2 separate regions of the Homo sapiens genome follow, and region 1 is linked to region 2. The links come from fine-mapping of genetic effects on gene expression. Tissue or cell type: whole blood. Region 2 holds a variant in brackets; the other region holds the start of a gene. All regions are shown on one strand. Distances are from middle to middle.

The links. PIP is the estimated chance that this variant, and not a neighbour inherited with it, causes the effect.
Region 1: RPLP0 starts here. The variant in region 2 is fine-mapped to the expression of RPLP0 in whole blood (TOPMed, PIP above 0.99).

What each region holds. Positions count from the first base shown.
Region 1 is chr12:120,198,121-120,203,267 of GRCh38, reverse strand. It overlaps RPLP0 (ribosomal protein lateral stalk subunit P0), which reads left to right and starts at 2,157. Exons shown (of 8, transcript NM_001002.4): 1 at 2,157-2,185; 2 at 2,437-2,538; 3 at 3,783-3,958; 4 at 4,063-4,150; 5 at 4,268-4,414; 6 at 4,529-4,714. The coding sequence starts at 2,485. It overlaps PXN-AS1 (PXN antisense RNA 1), which reads right to left and starts at 1,977. Exons shown (of 4, transcript NR_038924.1): 1 at 1,842-1,977. RefSeq lists enhancers at 1,642-2,001, 2,402-2,471, 3,512-4,453, 4,573-5,072.
Region 2 is chr12:120,274,230-120,279,376 of GRCh38, reverse strand. No RefSeq gene overlaps it. Among named protein-coding and RNA genes, the nearest start is that of PXN, 11 kb to the right of the region's middle. The variant T/A (reference allele first, on the strand shown) is at 2,507.

The DNA.
Region 1 (5,147 bases), 76 kb after region 2:
AGAAAAGAAAAAAGAAAAGAAAAAGAAATACAGTAACGTGAAATCGAGCTACTTCTAACTTTTTTTTTTTTTTTTGAGACGGAATCTTGCTCTGTCACCTAGGCTGGAGTACAGTGGCGCAATCTCAGCTCACTGCAACCTCTGCCTCCTGGGCTCAAGCAATTCTCCTGCCTCAGCCTCCCAAGTAGCTGGAATTACAGGAGCCCGCCACCACTCCTGGCTAACTTTTGGTATTTTTTAGTAGAGACGGGGTTTCACTGTGTTAGCCAGGATGGTCTGGATCTCCTGACCTCGTGATCTGCCCACCTCAGCCTCCCAAAGTGCTGGGATTACAGGCATGAGCCCCCGCACCCGGCCTACTTCTGACAGTTTTATGGTGTGTGATATAGGATATAACATGATGTATGAAGCTCTTTGTAATAATTTTTAATTTTGAAATAGCTGATTCTTTGGGGATCATTTAATACATAATTCCATAGGTTTCAGTGAAAAAAAAAAAAAAAAAGAGATCTCAGGGTTGGGCAAGGTGTCTCATTCTTGTAATCCCAGCAATTTAGGAGGCCAGGGTGGGAGGATTGCTTGAGCCCAGAAGTTTGACATCAGCCTAGGCAACATGGCAAGACCCCATCTATACAAAAAGTACAAAAAATTAGCTTGGCGTGGTGGTGTGTGCCTGTAGTCCTAGCTACTTGGGAGGCTGAGGTGGGAGGATCACTTCAGCCTGGGAGGTCAAGTCTGCAATGAACTGAGATTGCTCCACTACACTCTAGCCTGGGCAACGGAGTGAGACTGCTTCTCAAAAAAAAAAAAAAAAAAAAAAAAAAAAAAAAAAGATTTGATGGAGGTGAATTATTCTATGGATGTTTGTTGGCTAGTTTTCTAGGAAGAGGGAATGGCTAATGCAAAAGCCCCCAAGTAAAGCCTGCTCTGGAAAAGCAGCAGAGCATCATCTGGGTAGAAAGCAAGTAAGTGAGGAGGAAAACATCTGAGATGATCAGAGTGGGCGTGAGGGACAGATAGGTAAGGGCCTTGTAGGTACTTTAGGTTTTAGATTTTTACTCTGTAGGAAACGGAAAGTTTTAAGCAGATAAGGAGATGAGCTGACTTAGGTTTTTTTTTTTTTTTTTTTTTTTTTGAGATGGAGTCCCTCTCTGTCACCCAGGCTAGAGTGCAATGGTGTGATCTTAGCTCACTGCAGAGCTCACAGCTCCCGGGTTCAAGCGATTCTTCTGCCTCGGCCTCCTGAGTAGCTGGGATTACGGGCATGCGCCACCCCACCTGGCTAATTTTTGTATTTTTAGTAGAGACGGGGTTTTGCCATGTTGGCCAGGCTAGTCTCGAACTCCTGACCTCAGGTGATCCACCCGCCTCGTCCTCCCGAAGTGCTGGGAGTATAGGCGTGAGCCACCGCGCCCGGCCAGGTTTTAAAGGATCCCTCTGTTTTGGTAGGCGGAAAAACTAGAGAAGACGAGAGACCATTCTGAGGCCGGGCGCGGCGGGTCACGCCTGTAATCCCAGCACTTTGGGAGGCCGAGGCGGGCAGATCACGAGGTCAGGAGATCGAGACCATCCTGGAGAACATGATGAAACCCCGTCTCTACTAAAAATACAAAAAAAAAATTAGCCGAGCACGGTGGCGGGCGCCTGTAGTCCCAGCTACTCCGGAGGCTGAGGCAGGAGAATGGCGTGAACCCGGGAGGCGGAGCTTGCAGTCAGCCGAGATGGCGCCACTGCGCTCCAGCCTGGGCGACAGAGCGACACTCCGTCTCAAAAAAAAAAAAAAAAAGAGAAACCATTCTGTTTCTAAGCATGTGCAATTATGTCTCAGCTCCACGTCATACCTTTTAGTTTGCTGAGCTCGCCAGGTGGCACAGGGAACCGGGACTCCGAATTCGCAGCTCCAGCTCCAGCTCCAGCCCAGCAGGTGGCAGCAGCTCAGAGCAAGCTCCTCCAACGCGAGGCAGCGCCTTCCTTCGCGACCCTACTTAAAGGCGGCTTTCCGTTGGCTGGAGTGGCAGCGATATTATCCAATGGTTGCCTGTATTCGTTCAGCTTTGTCTGACGGGCGATGGCGCAGCCAATAGACAGGAGCGCTATCCGCGGTTTCTGATTGGCTACTTTGTTCGCATTATAAAAGGCACGCGCGGGCGCGAGGCCCTTCTCTCGCCAGGCGTCCTCGTGGAAGGTTCGTGTGCTAGTTAGATGGGCGCCAGGGGTCGCCGGCGGGAAGCATGGAGGGGTCTTTGGGGGCCTTTGGGAACATGGAGTCCTATTCTGTTCCGCCTGGGGCCTCGGTGGCGGCTTGCACGCCCCGAGATGACGGCCGCTGCCCTAGGCAGGGCCGGCGGGCGATTGCGCGTGTCCTGCTCCTCTTAGGCCCGGGACCGCGGGATGGGTGTCGGCGTGACCAGGCCTGAGCTCCCTGTCTCTCCTCAGTGACATCGTCTTTAAACCCTGCGTGGCAATCCCTGACGCACCGCCGTGATGCCCAGGGAAGACAGGGCGACCTGGAAGTCCAACTACTTCCTTAAGATCATCGTAAGTGCAGGGTGGGTCGCCTCTGCTCTTCATGTTGCCCCAGCGCAAATAGGGACAGTCAGCTGCTATGTGCTGAGGGTCTACTCACACCGGCTACTGAATTAGGCCATTTTTGGGAAAATACTGTTTAGTTAACAATTTCCTGAGATAGGTCCCTTCTGTTGCAGATAAACGGGCTCAGGCAAGTTAAGTGGGTCCTAAGATGACAGCATTCGTATCCAGGTCTGTCTGGCTTCTAAAAGAGCGCGCTTTATACTTTTTTTTTTTTAAACGGAGTCTCGCTCTGTTGTCCAGGCTGGAGTGCAGTGGCTTGATCTTGGCTTACTGCAACCTCCGCTTCCCAGGTTCAAGCGATTCTCCTGCTTCAGCCTCCCGAGTAGCTGGGATTACAGGGGCGCGACACCACACCCAGCTAATTTTTGTATTTTCAATAGAGACAGGGATTCACCATGTTGGCCAGGATGGTCTCGATCTCTTGACTTCATGATCCACCTTCCTCGGCCTCCCTAAGTGCTAGGATTACAGGTGTGAGCCACCGCGCCCGGCCGCACATTACAGTTTTACTCCATTTTTGAGAAGGTCTGAGGTCAGGAATGACTCATTGTAAGGAAGCAAGCTGTTGCATATTTAGGACCTGTCAGCCAAGAAACTTAAGTGTCCAATGACTTTTGGATGGCCTTTGAGGTGGGTCTCCCTTGCCCAGAAATGCTGACTGTACTGCGCTTAAGCAATTAGGCAGCATTGTAGAGCATAGCTTGTATTACATTTTCCCACACTTAGAAGGTTTTCAGACACAAAACCCAAAGGAATTGTGTAACAATCCGGATAAACACGCCTAGATTGTTTTTACAAATAATAATGTTGCTATATTTGCTTAACGTGGTGCTTTTAATGCTGTGAATCTAGCCCTCCTCTTGACCAACTTACTTGGAACATTCCTTTTTTATCCTGTTAACCATTTTAGTGAATCAGAAGCATGCCTGGTAATTGGGAAAAATTAAAAACTAAGTAAAAAAAGAAAAAACTCCTTGATTGAATGTAGAAACCTAATTTTCAGCGTTCATACCCAGCTAGCCAATCATCCAGTTTGGCAGTGTTACAACGTAGCTCCCAATCTCCCTCTGACTTCAAAAGCTTAGAAGAAAGGGAGTGGGATGGAAACAAATTGTGGGGTTCAGTTTCTTCTGGCATTTTTTCCCTCTCTCTTCCTGTTAAACTTGGCTCCTCTGGCTTGTTTTTTGTAGCAACTATTGGATGATTATCCGAAATGTTTCATTGTGGGAGCAGACAATGTGGGCTCCAAGCAGATGCAGCAGATCCGCATGTCCCTTCGCGGGAAGGCTGTGGTGCTGATGGGCAAGAACACCATGATGCGCAAGGCCATCCGAGGGCACCTGGAAAACAACCCAGCTCTGGAGAAGTCAGTTCCCCTGGCAGTTTTGTCCTTTCTCCCCAGTGCCCGTCTCCCTCTTCCTGGAGAATGGTGCTGAAAGGTGATTGTCTCCCATAAACTTCTCTTTGCAGACTGCTGCCTCATATCCGGGGGAATGTGGGCTTTGTGTTCACCAAGGAGGACCTCACTGAGATCAGGGACATGTTGCTGGCCAATAAGGTAAGGGGACAATTGGGTTGGCTAAAGAGACTTTGTTGTTGCTCCTTAAAGCAAAATGGACCATTCTCAGGTTGTGTGAGTGGAGAGGCTTTTCTCACTGTTTGTTGTCTTTGTCAGGTGCCAGCTGCTGCCCGTGCTGGTGCCATTGCCCCATGTGAAGTCACTGTGCCAGCCCAGAACACTGGTCTCGGGCCCGAGAAGACCTCCTTTTTCCAGGCTTTAGGTATCACCACTAAAATCTCCAGGGGCACCATTGAAATCCTGGTGAGTGGACCTGGTTTGCCTGTGCTAACCAGGCAAATGGGGAGCTGCTTTTAGTGGCCATGGATCTGCTGGTTGTCCAACAGGTGTTTACTGCCCCACTATTATCTGGTTCAGAGTGATGTGCAGCTGATCAAGACTGGAGACAAAGTGGGAGCCAGCGAAGCCACGCTGCTGAACATGCTCAACATCTCCCCCTTCTCCTTTGGGCTGGTCATCCAGCAGGTGTTCGACAATGGCAGCATCTACAACCCTGAAGTGCTTGATATCACAGAGGAAACTCTGCATTCTCGCTTCCTGGAGGTATATGCTGTCAGCCTTGCCCCCTCTTACACTGATGGTTGAGAGCATGACAAGGTTCAGACTGAGTCCCTGTAACCAAGGACTGTGTTTTCATCTGTCTACCTACCTCATCTGTAAAATGTCAGTAACAACATAAGATTGTTGAAGGATTTTTTTTTTTTTTTTTTGGAGACAGAGTCTTGCTGTGTCGCCCAGGCTGGAGTGCAGTGGCACAATCTCCCGGCTCACTGCAAGCTCCGCCTCCGGGTTCACACCATTCTCCTGCCTCAGCCTCCTGAGTAGCTGGGACTACAGGCACCCGCCACTACGCCCGGCTAATTTTTTTGTATTTTTAGGTTTCACCGCGTTAGCCAGGATGGTGTCGATCTCCTGACCTCGTGATCCGCCCAACTCGGCCTCCCAAAGTGCTGGGATTACAGGCATGAGCCACCAC
Region 2 (5,147 bases):
GACATAGTCCCTGTTCTCATAGCCCTGACATTTTAATGGGGGAGGCAGAGACAAATAATAAACAAGTACACAAATAAACGCAGAATATAATGGCAGAAGGTGAACCTCAACAAATACCAGGGTAAGGAGTCTGATTTGGTGGGGTACGGGGAGACTTTAGATAAAATGTTCAGGACCCACAGAGGTGGCACGTGAACAGCTATGCCAAGATCTGAGATCAGCTATGTCAAGATCCCAAAGTGCTAGGATTACAGGCATGAGCCACTGCACTTAGCCCAATAAAGTTGATTTTTAAAAAAAAAACATAACAGCTCCCTCCCCCTCCCCCATCCCCCTCCCCCTCCCCCTCACCCGCTCCCTCTTTCTTTCTTCGGTCTCCTTCTGTTGCCAAGGCTGGACTGTACTGCCGTGGTCTCGGCTCGCTGCAGCCTCCCTGCCCCGGGCTCCCCTGGTTCTCCTGCCTTGGCCTGCCGAGTGCCTGGGATTGCGGGCACGCGCCGCCACGCCTGACTGGTTTTTGTATATTTGGAGGAGACACGGTTTCGCCCTGTTGACTGGGCTGGTCTCTGGCTCCTGACCTCGAGTGGTCTGCCCGCCTCGGCCTCCTGGGGTACTGGGATTGCAGACGGAGTCTCGGTCACTCAGTGCTCAGTGTTGCCCAGGCTGGAATGCAGTGGCGTGATCTCGGCTCGCTGCAACCTCCACCTTCCAGCCGCCTGCCTTGGCCTCCCAAAGTGCTAAGATTACAGCCTCTGCCCGGCCGCCCCGTCTGGGAAGCGAGGAGCACCTCTGCCTGGCCGCCCCGTCTGGGAAGCGAGGAGCCCCTCTGCCCGGCTGCCACCCTGTCTGGGAGGCGAGGAGCGCCTCTGCCCTGCCGCCACCCCGTCTGGGAGGTGAGGAGCGCTTCTGCCCGGCCACCACCCCGTCTGGGAGGTGAGGAGCGCCTCTGCCTGGCCGCCACCCTGTCTGGGATGTGAGGAGCACCTCTGCCCGGCCGCCACCCCATCTGGGAGGAGTGCCTCTACCCGGCCGCCCCGTCTGTGAAGTGGGCGCCTCTGCCCAGCCACCCCGTCTGGGAGGTGAGGGGCGTCTCTGCCCGGCTCCCCCGTCTGGGAGGTGGGGAGCACCTCTGCCTGGCCGCCCTTCATCTGGGAGGTGGGGGGCGCCTCTGCCCGGACACCCCGTCTGGGAGGTGGGGGGCGTTTCTGCCCGGCTGCCCCATCAGGGAGGTGGGGGGCGCCTCTGCCCGGCTGCCCATCGTCTGGGATGTGAGGGGCGCCTCTGCCCAGCCACCACCCCTTCTGGGAGGTGAGGAGCGCCTCTGCCAGGCCGCCCCGCCTGGGAAGTGTACCCAACAGCTCCGAAGAGACAGCGACCATCGAGAAAGGGCCATGATGACGATGGCGGTTTTGTCGAAAAGAAAAGGGGGAAATGTGGGGAAAAGAAAGAGAGATCAGATTGTTACTGTGTCTGTGTAGAAAGAAGCAGACATAGGAGACACCATTTTGTTCTGTACTAAGAAAAATTCTTCTGCCTTGGGATGCTGTTAATCTATAACCTTACCCCCAACCCCGTACTCTCTGAAACATGTGCTGTGTCAACTCAGGGTTAAATGCATTAAGGGCGGTGCAAGATGTGCTTTGTTAAACAGATGCTTGAAGGCAGCATGCTCCTTAAGAGTCATCACCACTCCCTAATCTCAAGTACCCAGGGACACAAACACTGCTGAAGGCCGAAGGCCGCAGGGACCTCTGCCTAGGAAAACCAGAGACCTTTGTTCACGTGTTTATCTGCTGACCTTCTCTCCACTATTATCCTATGACCCTGCCACTTCCCCCTCTCTGGGAAACACCCAAGAATGATCAATAAATACTAAAAAAAAAAAACAAAAAAACCATAACATTGCCGGGTACTCACGCCTGTAATCCCAGCACTTTGGGAGGCCGAGGGGGGCGGATCTCCAGAGGTCAGGAGTTCAAGACCAGACTGGCCAACATGGTGAGACACTGTCTCTACTAAAAATACAAAAAATTATCCAGGTGTTGTGTCGTGTGACTGTAATCACAGCTACCCAGTAGGCTGAGGCAGGAGAATCACTTGAACCTGGGAGGCGGAGGTTGCAGTGAGCCGAGATCATACCACTGCACTCCAGCCTGGACGACAGAGTGAGACTCCGTCTCGAAATAAATAAATAAATAAAATAAAATAAAATAACATTAGGCTGGTGCCGTGGCTCACGCCTGTAATCCCAGCACTTTGGGAGGCCGAGGGGGGTGGATCACCCAAGGTTAGGAGTTCAGAACCAGCCTGGGCAACATGGCAAAACCCTGTCTCTACTAAAAATAAGAAAAATTAGCCGGGCGTGATAGCGTGCCTGTAGTCCCAGCTACTTGGGAGGCTGAAGCAGGAGAATGGCTTGAACCTGGGAGGTGATGGTTGCAGTGAGTCAAGATTGCGCCATTGCATTCCAGCCTGGGTGATACAGCAAGACTCCATCTCAAAAAAA[T/A]TTTTTTAAAAAGATAACATTGGCTTATTGGCTTCTGGGTAGAAAATTGACAATAGAGGTCCAGTTTGGAGGTTCATGCAGTAATCCCAGGCAAGAGAGGGTAGTGCGTGGCTGCACCTAGAGATATAATTGCAGAGGTGAAAATGAGGGGGTGGGGGTGGGAATTGGGCTACACTTTGCAGATGGACAGGCAGAACTGGGTGTGGAAAGCGAGGACGGGGAGGAACAGAGGATGACTTCCAGGTGGACACCCGGTCAACATATGGGGTCCTTAGGTGATAGAGAGGAGGATGAAGGTGGAAATCCAGCCCCCTTCACCTGAGAAAAGGTTGAAGAATCTCTTGAGATCCTTTTTGACCTTATAATTCTTTGTTTTCTTTAACTTTTTTTTTTTTTTTTTTTTTTTTGAGATGGGAGTCTCACTCTGTTGCCCAGGCTGGAGTGCAGTGGCCCAGTCTCAGCTTACTGCAACCTCTGTCTCCTGAGTTCAAGTGATTCTACCTGCCTCAGCCTCCCAAGTAGCTGGAATTACAGGTGCACGCCACCACACCCAGTTAATTTTTGTGTTTTTAGTAGGGACGGGGTTTCACCATGATGGCCAGGCTGGTCTCGAACTCCTGACCTCAAGTGATCTGCCCACCTCGGCTTCCCTAAGTATTGGGATTATAGGCATGAACCACCATGCCCAGACACAATTCTTTGTTTATAAGCCCTTCCAGGCAGGCATGCCATATGGAGAAGAATTCTCAATATCCCCATCTCACAGATGAGAAAACTGAGGCTGAGAGACTCTCCCAGGATCCCCAAATGGGAACTGAGGAAAACTGGAATTCTAGCTCAAATCTTCTTTTTTTTTTTTGAGATGAAGTCTTGCTGTGTCGCCCAGGCTGGAGTGCAGTGGCATAATCTCGGTTCACTGCAACATCCGCCTCCCAGGCTCAAGTGATCCTCCCACGTCAGCCTCCTAAGTAGCTGGGACTACGGGGCCTGCACCACCACACTGGCTAATTTTTGTATTTTTAATAGAGATGGCGTTTTGCCATGTTGGCTAGGCTGGTCTTGAACTCCTGACCGCAGGTGATCCACCCTCCTCAGCCCTCAGACTCTCACAATGCTGGGATTATGGGCGTGAGCCACTGTGCCCGTCCCTACATAGTTTTCTTTAAGTGGACCCACTTTAAAACAAACAAACAAACAAAAAAACCTTATCTTTATCCTAAACAATAATATTGGAGCTGGGCCAGGCGCGGTGGCTCATGCCTGTAATCCCAGCACATTGGGAAGCCGAGGGAGGTGGATTATGAAGTCAAGAGATCGAGACCATCCTGGCCAACATGGTGAAACCCCATCTCTACTAAAAATACAAAAGCTAGCCAGGCATGGTGGTGGGTGCCTGTAGTCGCAGCTACTCGGGAGGCTGAGGCAGGAGAATCACTTGAACCCGGGAGGCGGAGGTTGCAGTAAGCCAAGATTGTGCCACCGCACTCCAGCCTGGTGACAAAGCGAGATTCCGTCTCAAAAATTAAAATAAATAAAATAAATAAATAAATAATATTGGAGCCATCACAGGTTTTATGTGCTAATTAGATAATTTTCTAACACATAAATATGTAACTATTAAAATAAGGAATCTGGCCGGGCGCGGTGGCTCACGCCTGTAATCCTAGCACTTTGGGAGGCCGAGGCGGGCAGATCACGAGGTCAGGAGATCGAGACCATACTGGCTAACACGGTGAAACCCCGTCTCTACTGAAAATACAAAAAATTAGCCAGGCGTGGTGGCAGGCGCCTGTAGTCCCAGCTACTCGGGAGGCTGAGACAGGAGAATGGCGTGAACCCGGGGGGTGGAGCTTGCGGTGAGCCGAGATCGCGCCACTGCACTCTAGCCTGGGCGACAGAGCGAGACTCTGTCTTGAAAAGAAGAAAAAAAAAAAACTGAGCTGGGCATGGTGGCTCATGTGTGTAATCCCAGCACTTTGGGAGGTCGAGGTGGGAGGATTCCTTGAGCCCAGGAGTTTGAGACCAGTTGGGCAACAAAGTGAGACCTCTCTGTGTCTGCAAAAAATACAAATAAAATAATAAATCTTTGTACTAGCTACAACCTCTCATTCCACCAGTGGCAGTTAGTCACACTACATTTGGGAGAATTATGCCTGGGACCACCCTACAGTGTTGCATGTCAACTCAGTACTCATGAAATATACATGATATATTTATCTAGATACAGCAGTTATAGACCACACTTTGTCAACACATAGTAAACGGACTAACGCGACACTTAACCTCACACTTCCACTCCTTAAGAACTGATCTGCAGGAAATCATTAAGGAAGTGTTCCGAGATTTAACTATAAGGATGTTGTCCTAGCATTGCTGATTATAGTGAAAATTTGTAACTAACTAAATTTTATCAGGAGATTGGCTAAGTAAATCCTGGTACAATTATATGATGCAATGCTGTTTTACCCAAGGAATTGATGTTTCAGAAGAATGTTAAATGCCATGAAAAGATGATCACACTGGACTGGCCACAGTGGCTCATGCTTGTAATTCTACCTCTTTGGGAGGCCAAGACTGGAGGACTGATTGAGCCTAGGAGTTCAAGAACAGGCTGGACAACATAGGGAGGCCCCCAGCTCTA